Linked DNA regions of Homo sapiens: region 1 is linked to region 2. The links come from fine-mapping of genetic effects on gene expression. A gene starts in region 2. The other region holds a variant in brackets. All regions are shown on one strand. Distances are between the middles of the regions. Region 1 overlaps PI4K2B (phosphatidylinositol 4-kinase type 2 beta). Region 2 holds the start of PI4K2B (phosphatidylinositol 4-kinase type 2 beta).

The links. PIP is the estimated chance that this variant, and not a neighbour inherited with it, causes the effect.
Region 1: its variant is the best candidate, but not a certain one, in a credible set for the expression of PI4K2B in prefrontal cortex (BrainSeq, PIP 0.88).

The regions. Positions count from the first base shown.
Region 1 is chr4:25,260,372-25,265,753 of GRCh38, reverse strand. PI4K2B (phosphatidylinositol 4-kinase type 2 beta) reads right to left here. Exons shown (of 10, transcript NM_018323.4): 6 at 5,163-5,230; 7 at 1,905-2,004. Among named protein-coding and RNA genes, the nearest start is that of PI4K2B, 29 kb to the right of the region's middle. The variant A/G (reference allele first, on the strand shown) is at 3,003.
Region 2 is chr4:25,231,752-25,237,133 of GRCh38, reverse strand. It overlaps PI4K2B (phosphatidylinositol 4-kinase type 2 beta), which reads right to left and starts at 3,101. Exons shown (of 10, transcript NM_018323.4): 1 at 2,703-3,101. The coding sequence starts at 2,970. It overlaps LOC105374535 (a long non-coding RNA gene), which reads left to right and starts at 3,269. Exons shown (of 4, transcript XR_925490.3): 1 at 3,269-3,345. RefSeq lists enhancers at 2,212-2,341, 2,274-2,773, 2,774-3,275 and silencers at 2,562-2,621, 2,662-2,901, 3,002-3,311.

The sequences.
Region 1 (5,382 bases), 29 kb before region 2:
CAAAACAGAATTTACACAGGCCATATTCACAGATCACAATGCAATAATGCTGGAAAATAACAATGAACAGTTTCTTAGAAATAGTAATAATGGACAATTAAAATAAGCTGACGTAGAAATTTTAAGATCAAACAAAATACTTCTAAATTATTCCTGTCAAAAAGAAAGTCAGAAAATATGAGTATGTAAAGCAGAGCCATAGAGTACCACCTGTGCAACCCGTGATTTAGCCAAAATGATACCCAGAGGAAAGTATGAGGCCTAATATGCATTTATAGGAAAGCGATATAGCATGAACATAATAGGAGAAAAGAATAATGATGGAAAACATAAATCTATAAAAGAAAAAGCAAACAAACTAAAAGCCTGATCTATAAAATAAAAAGGCAATTATCTGGGGAAAAAGAGCATAAATAATTAAATAAATAGAAGGACCGATGCTTAACAATAGACAAATCTTTGGCAAGCCTAATGAGTAAAAGGCTCACTAATAAATTGAAGGAATTTAAAAGAGACATATCATGGATACAAATTTTTTTTTTTTTTTTTTTTTTTGGTGAGACAGAGATTTACTCTTGTTGCCCAGGCTGGAGTGCAATGGCGCGATCTCGGCTCACAGCATCCTCTGCCTCCCAGGTTCAAGCGATTCTCCTGCCTCGGCCTCCCGAGTAGCTGGGATTACAGGCATGTGTCACCACACCCGGCTAATTTTGTATTTTTAGTAGAGATGGAGTTTCACCATGTTGCCCAGGCTGATCTCAAACTCCTGACCTCAGGTAATCCACCCACCTCAGCCTCCCAAAGTGCTGGGATTACAGGCGTGAGCCACTGCACCCAGCCAGATTTTTTAAACATACTATATATTTTTTATTTTATTTTTGAGACAGGGCCTTACACTCTTGTCACCCAGGCTGGAGTACAGTGGTGCCATCTTGGCTCACTGCAACCTCCACCTCCCAAGCTCAAGTAATCCTCTCACCTCAGTCTCCCAAGTAGCTAGGACTACAGGCATCGGCCACCACACCTGGCTCATTTTTGTATTTTTTGTAGAGATGGGGTTTCGCCATGTTGCCCAGGCTGGTCTTGGACTCCTGAGCTCAAGTGATCTGCTAGCCTCAGCCCCCAAAGTGCTGGGATTACAGGTGTGAGCCACCATGCCTGGCCCATATATTTTAAACACATACAAATATCAGAAAACAACTATAATAAACTCCCATGTTAACTCAATCATTACCAATTTTTTTTTGCAAAACTGGCTTTATTTATCCCTCCTGGTCCACACCACCAATATTTTAAGGCAAATTACAGAAATCATTTCATTTAACTCCCTAAATACTCAATACGCACAGAGGGAATTTTTTTAATTATAAGAGAATTCTAATAAAATGCTATACTCATAAATTTAAAACTCAAGAAATCATGGAAAATTTTAAGCAAAATAAAAGTGCCTAAAACTGGTTCAAGAAGATGTAGAAAACGTAATCATTTACCACAAAAGAGACTGGGAAAGCAATTAAAGCACTACTCCCTAAAAATGAGGTCAGGTGGAGGGCAGGCCTAAATTGTTTTAGAAGTGAATACAACGAAAAACGTAAAATATAGTTCTACCAAATATTAAAATAATTTCAATGTTATATATTTTTTAAAAACTGGAACACTACTAAACTCATTTTCCAAGGATAACACAAAACCTAAAAATCAAAACCAGTCATCCCAGAATAAGCAAAAAATTCATAGCAAGACCCTGTAGTATACATTTGCATCCCTAATGCCTAAAACTGAGCCTTAATGAATAATCATATTTCATCTACTTTTTCCTCCGCTATGGTATCTGTAAATTTTTTTCCCTTCTCATTCTGGAAAAAAGGTAATTATAGACTCTACAGAAGGTTCTAAATACTCACATGCTCTCCATTCATCAGGATGTTTAAAAGGAAATGCTAGACCATTATCAATTGCAGCTATTTTAATAAGGAATTCTTCATCATCAATCCATTTTGATTCCTATAGAGTAGAAAAATGATATGTTGATAAAAGAACCTATATAAATATTCCCAAAGGATAAATTATTTATAATAATTATTGAGGTTTAAGAACATATTCTCTCGGATGAGCCTATAAAAATAATGTTACCAGAAAAAGTACAAATTCACACAGGAATGGAAGAGACTGTCTGAAAAAACAGTGTATTTCCTAACCACTATTTTTTAAAATTTCATATTATACCATTACTCAGTAATGGTTTCAAGTTTTTTCTCTTTAAAAGGCTTGAAAATATTGTGACTTTAAAAAGTGATGTTCTAGATAATTTACTGCTAGATTCATTGCTTAAATGTATGATGTAAAATATTACTAATTTTTTTAAACACCTTAATAATCACCTTATTAAGACCTAGTCTTTCTTAGGGTCCCAAAGAAATAAATCAAACACAAAATGTTTCTAAATGAAACTCCTTCAAAGACCATAATTAAATATAAGATCTAGTAGAAGGAACCTCAAGATATTCTTGAATGTAGGTGTTATTTTTTGGCTGTGTCCCCACCCAAAATCTCATCTTGAATTGTAATCCCCTGTAATCCTTATGTGTCAAGGGTGGGACCAGGTGGAGGTAATCGGATCATGGGGGCAGTTTCTGCCATGCTGTTCTCGTGACAGTGAGTGAGTTCTCATGAGATTTGATGGTTTTGCAAGCGTCTGGCATTTCTCCTACACTCATTCTCCTGCCACCCTGTGAAGAGGTGCCTTCTGCCATGATTGTAAGTTTCCTGAGGCCTCCCCAGCCATGCAGAATTGTGAGTCTCTTTTCTTTATAAATGACCCAGCCTTGGGTATTTCGTCATAGCAGTGTGAGAATGTACTAATACAGTAGGCCGTTCCTAACTTCTGTATTCTTCCATAACAGAAATAAAGATCTCAGGAGAAAGAGGGTTTTCATGTTAAAGAGTATTTCTGCGGAAGGTAATTTATCAAGCTCAACTATCTTTAGAGGTAATTATTGTGA[A/G]TATCTGTTTTATTTTACCACGGTGGTTCACACGGCTCTGATGTTAACTTCGTATTTTTGGAATTGCTTTACTTAGAAATTAAAACAGAATAAAGTTAAAAGTGTGTGTTTTTTAAAGAAAAAAAAAGGGTATTCTGATTAAAGATAGATGGCCATTACTAAGTGGCCTAGATACAATAACAAAAAGTAAAACAGAAAATTTTTAATTTAAAAGCACTACAGTGAAGGCTGATGTGAGGTACGCCAACTTTATTTCTTTTAGTTTATATCAAATGTCTTACACCTCATTGAAAGTGCACAAAATACTTAGAGCAAAAGAATTTTCAGCAAAATCTAACAGCTCAAGATATACAAATAAAATAATTTGGGGAGCTTATGTTATTTAATTATCTTTAATTTTTTTATTTTTTTGAGACAGGGTCTTGCTCTGTCACCCAAGCTAGAGTGCAGAGGCACAACCACAACTCACTGCAGCATTGACTTCCTGTGCCCAAGCAATCCTCCCACCTCAGCCTCCCGAATAGCTGGGACCACAGGTGCCTGCCACCATGTCCGGCTAATTTATTTCATTTTACTTTTTCTACTATCTTTAAGTCTTTTATCCTTAAGTGGCGCTTTAAAAAGATTTTTTTTTAATTCTTTGTAGACACAGGGTCTCAGACTCCTGGACTCAATCAATCCTCCCACCTTGGCGTCCCAAAGTGCTGTGATTACAGGCATGAGCCACTGTGCCCAGCCCAGGAGCTTATACATATGAGCATTTATGTTTGTATTTTAAGCCCATTTCTGCTACAACTGCCATTTATTATTATTTCTACTATTCTTTCCTATTTACAACTTTATTAAGGTATAATTTATACACAATTAACTTCCTATATTAACAAGTACAATGTGATGAGCCTTGACATATGTGAAACTTCCACGCCAAAGTTTCCTTGTGTCCCTCTGCAGTCCAGCTACTGGTCTGTTTTCTGTCACTAGAAACTAGTTTGCATTTTCTAATTTTTAAATATAAATATACAATATGTTCCCTTTATGTGTAGCTTCTTTCACTCAGCATAATTTTAAGTTTCATCCACGCTATTGTATCGTTTGTTCCTTTTTATTGCTAAGTGCTACGAATATGTATTTTTAAATATCCTTGATAAACATTTAAAAGCACAAACTTTTAAAAATGATGCAACAGCTTTAAGTCATTACTTGAGAACATAAATTATAAATATTGAAGAAATATTTTTAATCACTTAAAACTTTCCCAAATGTACAAACTGTTTTAAACTTGTAAAAGTATTTTATAAAAAAAATCTTATGTAAATATCTAAAACTTCAACTTGGTACTCAAAGTCGATAGCAATTACTCTAAAATCTATAACTCTCATATCAGTGTTGAGGCTCTATGCAGTCTATTATATATGTTAAAACCAGCTTCTTATAAATAGCAAAAGTATTTAATACTTTTTTTAAGTTCAGTGGACAAGATTCACAGGTTAAGCACACATGTTCCATTTATTAGGTAATATTGTATTATCTAATACTGAATGAAAGGACTCAGAAGAAAGTGAATTAGTAAAATACAAACATGGTGAACAAAAATCCCAGAAGCCTTTATTACATAAAAGCAAAATATGGGGATTCCATATATTTCTCAAACTCTAAAAAAGTACTAGGCAGGTATTATTCTTCTATTCTAATATGAAATAAAAAATAAAGCTGCCCAACAATTAATAAAAGAAAAAACAGAACTGGCTGGGTGTGGTGGCACATGACTGTAATCCCAGCACTTTGGGAGGCCAAGGCGGATGGATTGCTTGAGGCCAGAAGTTCGAGACCAGCCTGGCCAACACGGCAAAATCCCACCCCTAAAAAAAAAAAAAAAAAAAAATCAAGAATCAAGAAATGCAACGTAAACAAGTGACAAAAATAAAAAGTGTGAGAAAAACAGAGACAGTAGATTTAAAAACCAAGGATTAAGTGAAAGAAGGAGGAAATGGTGAAGAATAACTTAAAGGAATCTTTTACAGAAATTGAATATATATATATATAATATTCACAAGTTATACACAATTATATACACGTGTGTGTGTGTATGTGTGTGTGTGTGTGTGTGTGTATATATATATATATATATATATATATATATAAAATTGTAAATTTCCTTACCTTATGGTCAATTTCCTTTTCACATTTCTGCTTTTCGTATCTGACTAACCAATTATCATTGCCCCTGTCTTTCAAAACAAACAAGAAAATCTGTTACTTCATTTCTATGGACATCATGGCTTAATATCAATGAGAAAACTCTAGTGATCTCCTGATTTTTGAGACTTTCACTGGTTATCTGTAGCATATTAAAGGTCACAATTTAACACAAAGAAACTAA
Region 2 (5,382 bases):
TGTTAAATGCCTTGTTGAAGATAACAGACATATGACATTCTTCCACTGGCTAAAGTACATAAACCTCTTGCTTATATAAGTAAGAGTTAAGCATCATAAATGATGTTCATATTAATCTAAAGGCAAGAATTTCTTGGAACTAGTGAGGTAGTTTCATGGAAATCGGATGGTAAAGGACAAATGAAGTTAATGGAGTCATTTAAAAAATAACTAAACTTAAAAAGTATTAAATTACTCAATCATGAACATTTTAGTCTTTAAAAATTTTTTAAACAGTTTTCACAGAAACTATTTTAAAGTCCTATTAAAGGTAAAAACCTCCAAAATAACCACAGACACAATTATTTTATAACACTTGTGGACCCATGGCAAAACGGAAAAGGGGCAGAAGATGAAGAAAGAACCAGGCTTCCTCCTGATTTATTACTTCCTGGATATTTGACTTCGGGCAAACCATTTACCTCTGAAGACCTGAGCTACCAGTCATTACCAGTTTATTAATTCTGAATCCTCATAATGAGAATAATGGCGAATAACAACTAACTTGCTGTGCTGTTGTGAAAATAATTAATTTTTTTTTTGAGACAAAGTCTCACTCTGTCACCCAGGCTGGAGTGCAGTGGAGCCATCTCTGCTCACTGCAACCTACACCTCTCGGGTTCAGAAGCGATTCTCCTGCCTCAGCCTCCCAAGTAGCTGGAATTGCAGGCGCCCGCCACCATGCCTGGCTAATTTTTCTATTTTTAGTAGAGGCAGGGTTTCACCATGTTGGCCAGGCTGGTCTGAAAACTCCTGACCTCAAATGATCCACCCACCTAGGCCTTCCAAAATGCTGGGATTACAGGCATGAGCCATGGCACCCAACAGAGAATAAAATTTATTTATTTATTTATTTATTTATTTATTTATTTATTTATTTATTTATTTTTGAGACAGAGTCTTGCTCTGTCTCAAGACAGAACCAGGCTGGAGTGCAGTGGAGAATAAAATATTTTTTTAAAAAAGATCTTAGCAAATTGTAAACTGTGATACAGGTAAGATATTACCTTTAAAAAAGGTAGGAATTCTAAGAATCCATTTGTATTCTAACACTATACTCTATCCTCACTTTGAATTTTTGTTGTTGTTGTTGTTTATTTTTTATAGAGATGGGGATCTCGCTATGTTGCCCAGGTGGGTCTCGAACTTCCAGCCTCAAGCTATTCTCCTGCCTAGACCTCCCAAAATGCTGGGATGGGATTACAGGCCTGCCATCTCGTTGACCTCTCGCTTTGATTTTTTTCTAGCCTTAATACTGTTTGTTTATAAAACACCTCACTTTCACAGAACAAGTGCATTTTGAAGGCTTTAGGCTCTTTTAAAAACCCAGGTACACAAGGTAGCTTACACAAGGTAAGGGACAGAAAAAGGCAAGCTAGCTATTTTACAGACTAAATTCTAAGTAACATATACCCAAATTGCCAATGTAGCTAGGCAAATGCAGACCCGTTTGTGATCTGGTTTCAGCTTCACGTTGTTTGGTTAAACGTCAATGCATCCATCAGGTAACATTATAACGGGAGCAGACGTTGGTTAAAGCTTAAACAATCAGACAAACTGCTCCCCTTGGGATTCTCTGATTTATTTACTCTAGAATATGCCTGAATGTAGCCTCTAGCTAGAACTTGAGTGACCGATTCTATCCAAAATTCTTTAAACTGTAAAGGACACATTAGTGTACCACTAACAGTACATTTAAAATCTAACAATTCCAAAAAAAACTAAGCAGTGTTAAAGAAACTTCCATTTTCTGTGGTTTTTAAGTTGTCATGTGTGAAGCGATAAACCAACCGGGTGCACAACATCTCATTTAATCCATCCTCACAACCAGCAGGGAGGTGTACCATCGCCTTTTTACAAACAAGTCTGTCTCACCTCTAGCTGAGAGTCTTACAAGTCTCTTGCTATTTCCATCACATTTGTCTAACTCCATTCAACACGCCAGAAAAACTCACTTTATTAATAAATATCCAGGCCTGCACAGCATACCTAAATTTAACCTTCAACATCATTTCAACTGCCCTGTTTCGCCTGAGGTTATCAGTCCGCTTAATAGCGAAAAGAGGTTTTTCGTTTTGGTTTTCTTATGTATTAGAAGTAAATCAAGAAAGAGAAACTAAACTGTAAGAGGGCAGGAACAGACTTTCAACTGCTTTTGCCCCCTGTGGCTAACTTCATAATAACAACATTTAATAGAAAAAGGTTTTGAAACGTGCCCCAGTGGCAACTGGATATTCTGGCTGTCCATCTCTCTCCTGTCATCCACTTTGCAAATTCACCACTCCGGGAACTTTCCTGAGAGTTCAAGGTTCTTAATTCAAAAGTCAAGTCCAAACTTGAGCAAGGACTTACGTCATTTTACAGCGTTAACCTCTCCCCAGTGTCGGTTTCTAGAAGTTTTGACTCACTTTGCGGGGAGGTCTAAAGAATCGGTTTAATGACAACCACTGGCCTTAGGAGAGGGAGCTCCCGGAGAAAGAGCGAGCAAGCTAGGTGCCCGCGGTGCGGCTGCGGCTGGCGCCGGTCCGAGCTCGGGAGCTGCTGCCCAGCGAGCGGGGAAAGCCCGTCCACCTCGGCCAGCGCGCGCGGGAGACAGGACCGAGCCGGGCGACAGGGGCAGCCGCCCGGAGGGGCGCGGGGAGTGGGGCAGGGCCGGGTCGCACCTGAAACCGCGGGGCGGCTCCGGTCCAGCTCGGCGGACGAACTCCGGGAGACCCCCACGTCCCCGGGCGGGAGGGGCAGCTCCTCGTCGCCGGCCTCGCCCTCCTCCCCGGCAGCGTCCAGCAGCCTCACGGCGCTGCCTGGGGCGCCTCTCCGCGGGTGGGCCCAGGCGATCCGCGGTAGCAGCGGCTCCCGCTCCCCATCCTCCTCCTCCTCCGGGCTCCCGCCGTCCGCGGACGCCAACCGGTCGGGCTCGGAGGGATCCTCCATGGACTCCCTCTGCTCCCTCCGCGCTGAGACCAGATCAGAGCAGCCAGGTGCCAGAGACTGGGCTCTGCATGGCGCGGAACGGGAGCGACCGGGTAGAACGGACGCCACCTCACCAGCGCACGGGCACGCTTGGCGCCCGCCCAGCGGTTGTCCCGCCTCGCCGCCGGCCGCGCCCCACCTCGCGCCTCCGCCAGGCACCACCCCCGCGCCTGCGCAGAAGGGTCGTGGCGGCGGCGGCGGCGGCAGCGGGGCACGTGGGAGTGAACAGGGGGCGGGGCTTTTGAGGGGTCAGGTGGGGTGGGGCCGCCACCTGCTTCCGTGAGCGCGGGGAGAAGCTGGGCACAGCTCGCTTTACTCCCAGTGGAGGGCGGGAAGGTGAGTAATTTTCAAAGAGGTGCCCTCCTGCAACCAAAAGCGGCTTCTCCCTGACAGAATTCTCTCTCAGAGTTTACCATAATCTGTAACTATAGATTTAATTGTATGACATTTCTTTCCTCCAGTAGACGTCCAGGAGGGCAGGGACCTTGTCTTTGTTCAGATATTCTTGATAGTGGCAGTTTGTATGTTTTCTTTTTCTGACTAATCTAGCTAGAAGTTTATCAATTTTTAAATCTTTTCAAAATGTCATGTTTTGGTTCCATTGATTTTCTGTTTTCTGGTCCATTGCCTTATTTTGCTCTTTATTGCTCACTTGAGTTTTGATTTCCTCTTCTTTTTCTAGTTGCTTAGAGTAGAAGATGATTGATTCTGGATCTTTCTGCTTTTCCAATGCTAGTATTTTAAGGCTATAAATTGCCCTCTAAGCACTGCTTTAGCTGAATTCTCCTTTTTTTTTTTCTTGGTGGTTGTTATTTTTGAGACAGGGTCTCACTTTGTTATCCAGGCTGGAGTGCAGTGACACAATCATAGCTCACTGCAGTCTCAACCTCCTAAGCTCAAGGGATCTTCTCAGCTTTAAACTGTAGAAGACACAGTAGCTGGAACTGCAGGTGTGCACGACCACATCCTGTTAATTTTTAAATTTAAATTTTTTGTAGAGATGGGATCTCACTGTTGCCCAGATTGGTCTTGAGCTCCTGGTCTCAAGCAGTCGTCCTGCTTCAGCATCCCAAAATTCTGGGATTACAAGCATAAGCCACCTTGCCTGGCCTGCTACTGTGCTTTTGTTTTCCTTCAGCTGAAAATAGTTTTTAATTTCCTTTATGATTTCCTCTTTGACCCTGTAAAGGAAAATAAAAATCTCAGAACCACCCCCCACCCCCAACTTGTTATGTCAAAGGGAGAGTTAAGCCTGGAGACTGAAGTCACTCAACACTACAATGCTTTTCCCAAATGGATAGCTGTTACTTCCCATAGTTGTATTAAAACTTTATATGTTAGCCAGACCCTCCTCAAAATGCAAAAAAAAGCCTTATGCATCTCAGTCTCAGGATGACTGTCCTCAACAAATTAATCATAGTAAATTCTTTACTGGCCCTTAAACCTTTCAAGATGTATATCCTTCCATAAAACAAGGACGTGTCAATTGTATAACTTTAAGTCTGCAACCTAAATCAAACTGGTACAACTAAAGTCTGTTAAATTTCACATGGATAAATTCAGTTACAAGCTTATCTTCCCAGATGCAGAACAAGGATAAGATCAATCATTCCTTCACCTGAGATATCTGTATAATTAACTTCCTTTACTCCATTTTCTTTGAATATTCACCTTATCTTATGCATAGCATAGAGTTACTGGGCACTACCTAAAGTCTAGCAAAAATGTAACCATTTGCTTCACCACCTACAACCCTCTTCCCTGATGCCTTCTCCGCTTTAAAGAAAGAATAGCTGTAATTACAGGTGCCTGCCACCATGCACGGCTAATTTTTGTATTTTTTAGTAGAGATAGGGTTTCACCACATTGGCCAGGCTGGTCTCGAACTCCTGACCTCAGATGATCCACCCGCCTCGGCCTCCCAAAGTGCTGGGATTACAGGTGTGAGGTACTGCACCTGGCCTGTAAATGCCTTTTAATTGGAGTTTGGGGTCCATTTACATTTAATGTAATAATGATGTGGTTGGATTTAGATCTATTATTTTGCAATTTGGGTTTTATTTGCTTTAACCTTTTCGGTTCCTCTGTTCCTCCTTTCCTGCCTTCGTTTGGATTAATTCAATAATTCTGATTATTTCATTTTCATTCCACCATTGACTTTCTGTTATACTTATTTTTTTTCTTTTTTTGAGATGGAGTTTCACTCTTGCTGCCCAGGTAGGAGTGCAGTGGTGCAATCTTGGCTCACTGCAACCTCTGTCTCCTGGGTTCAAGCTATTCTCCTGCCTCAGCCTTCTGAGTAACTGGGACTACAGGCACATGCCACCATGCCCAGCTAATTTTTGTATTTTTAGTAGAGACGAGGTTTCACCA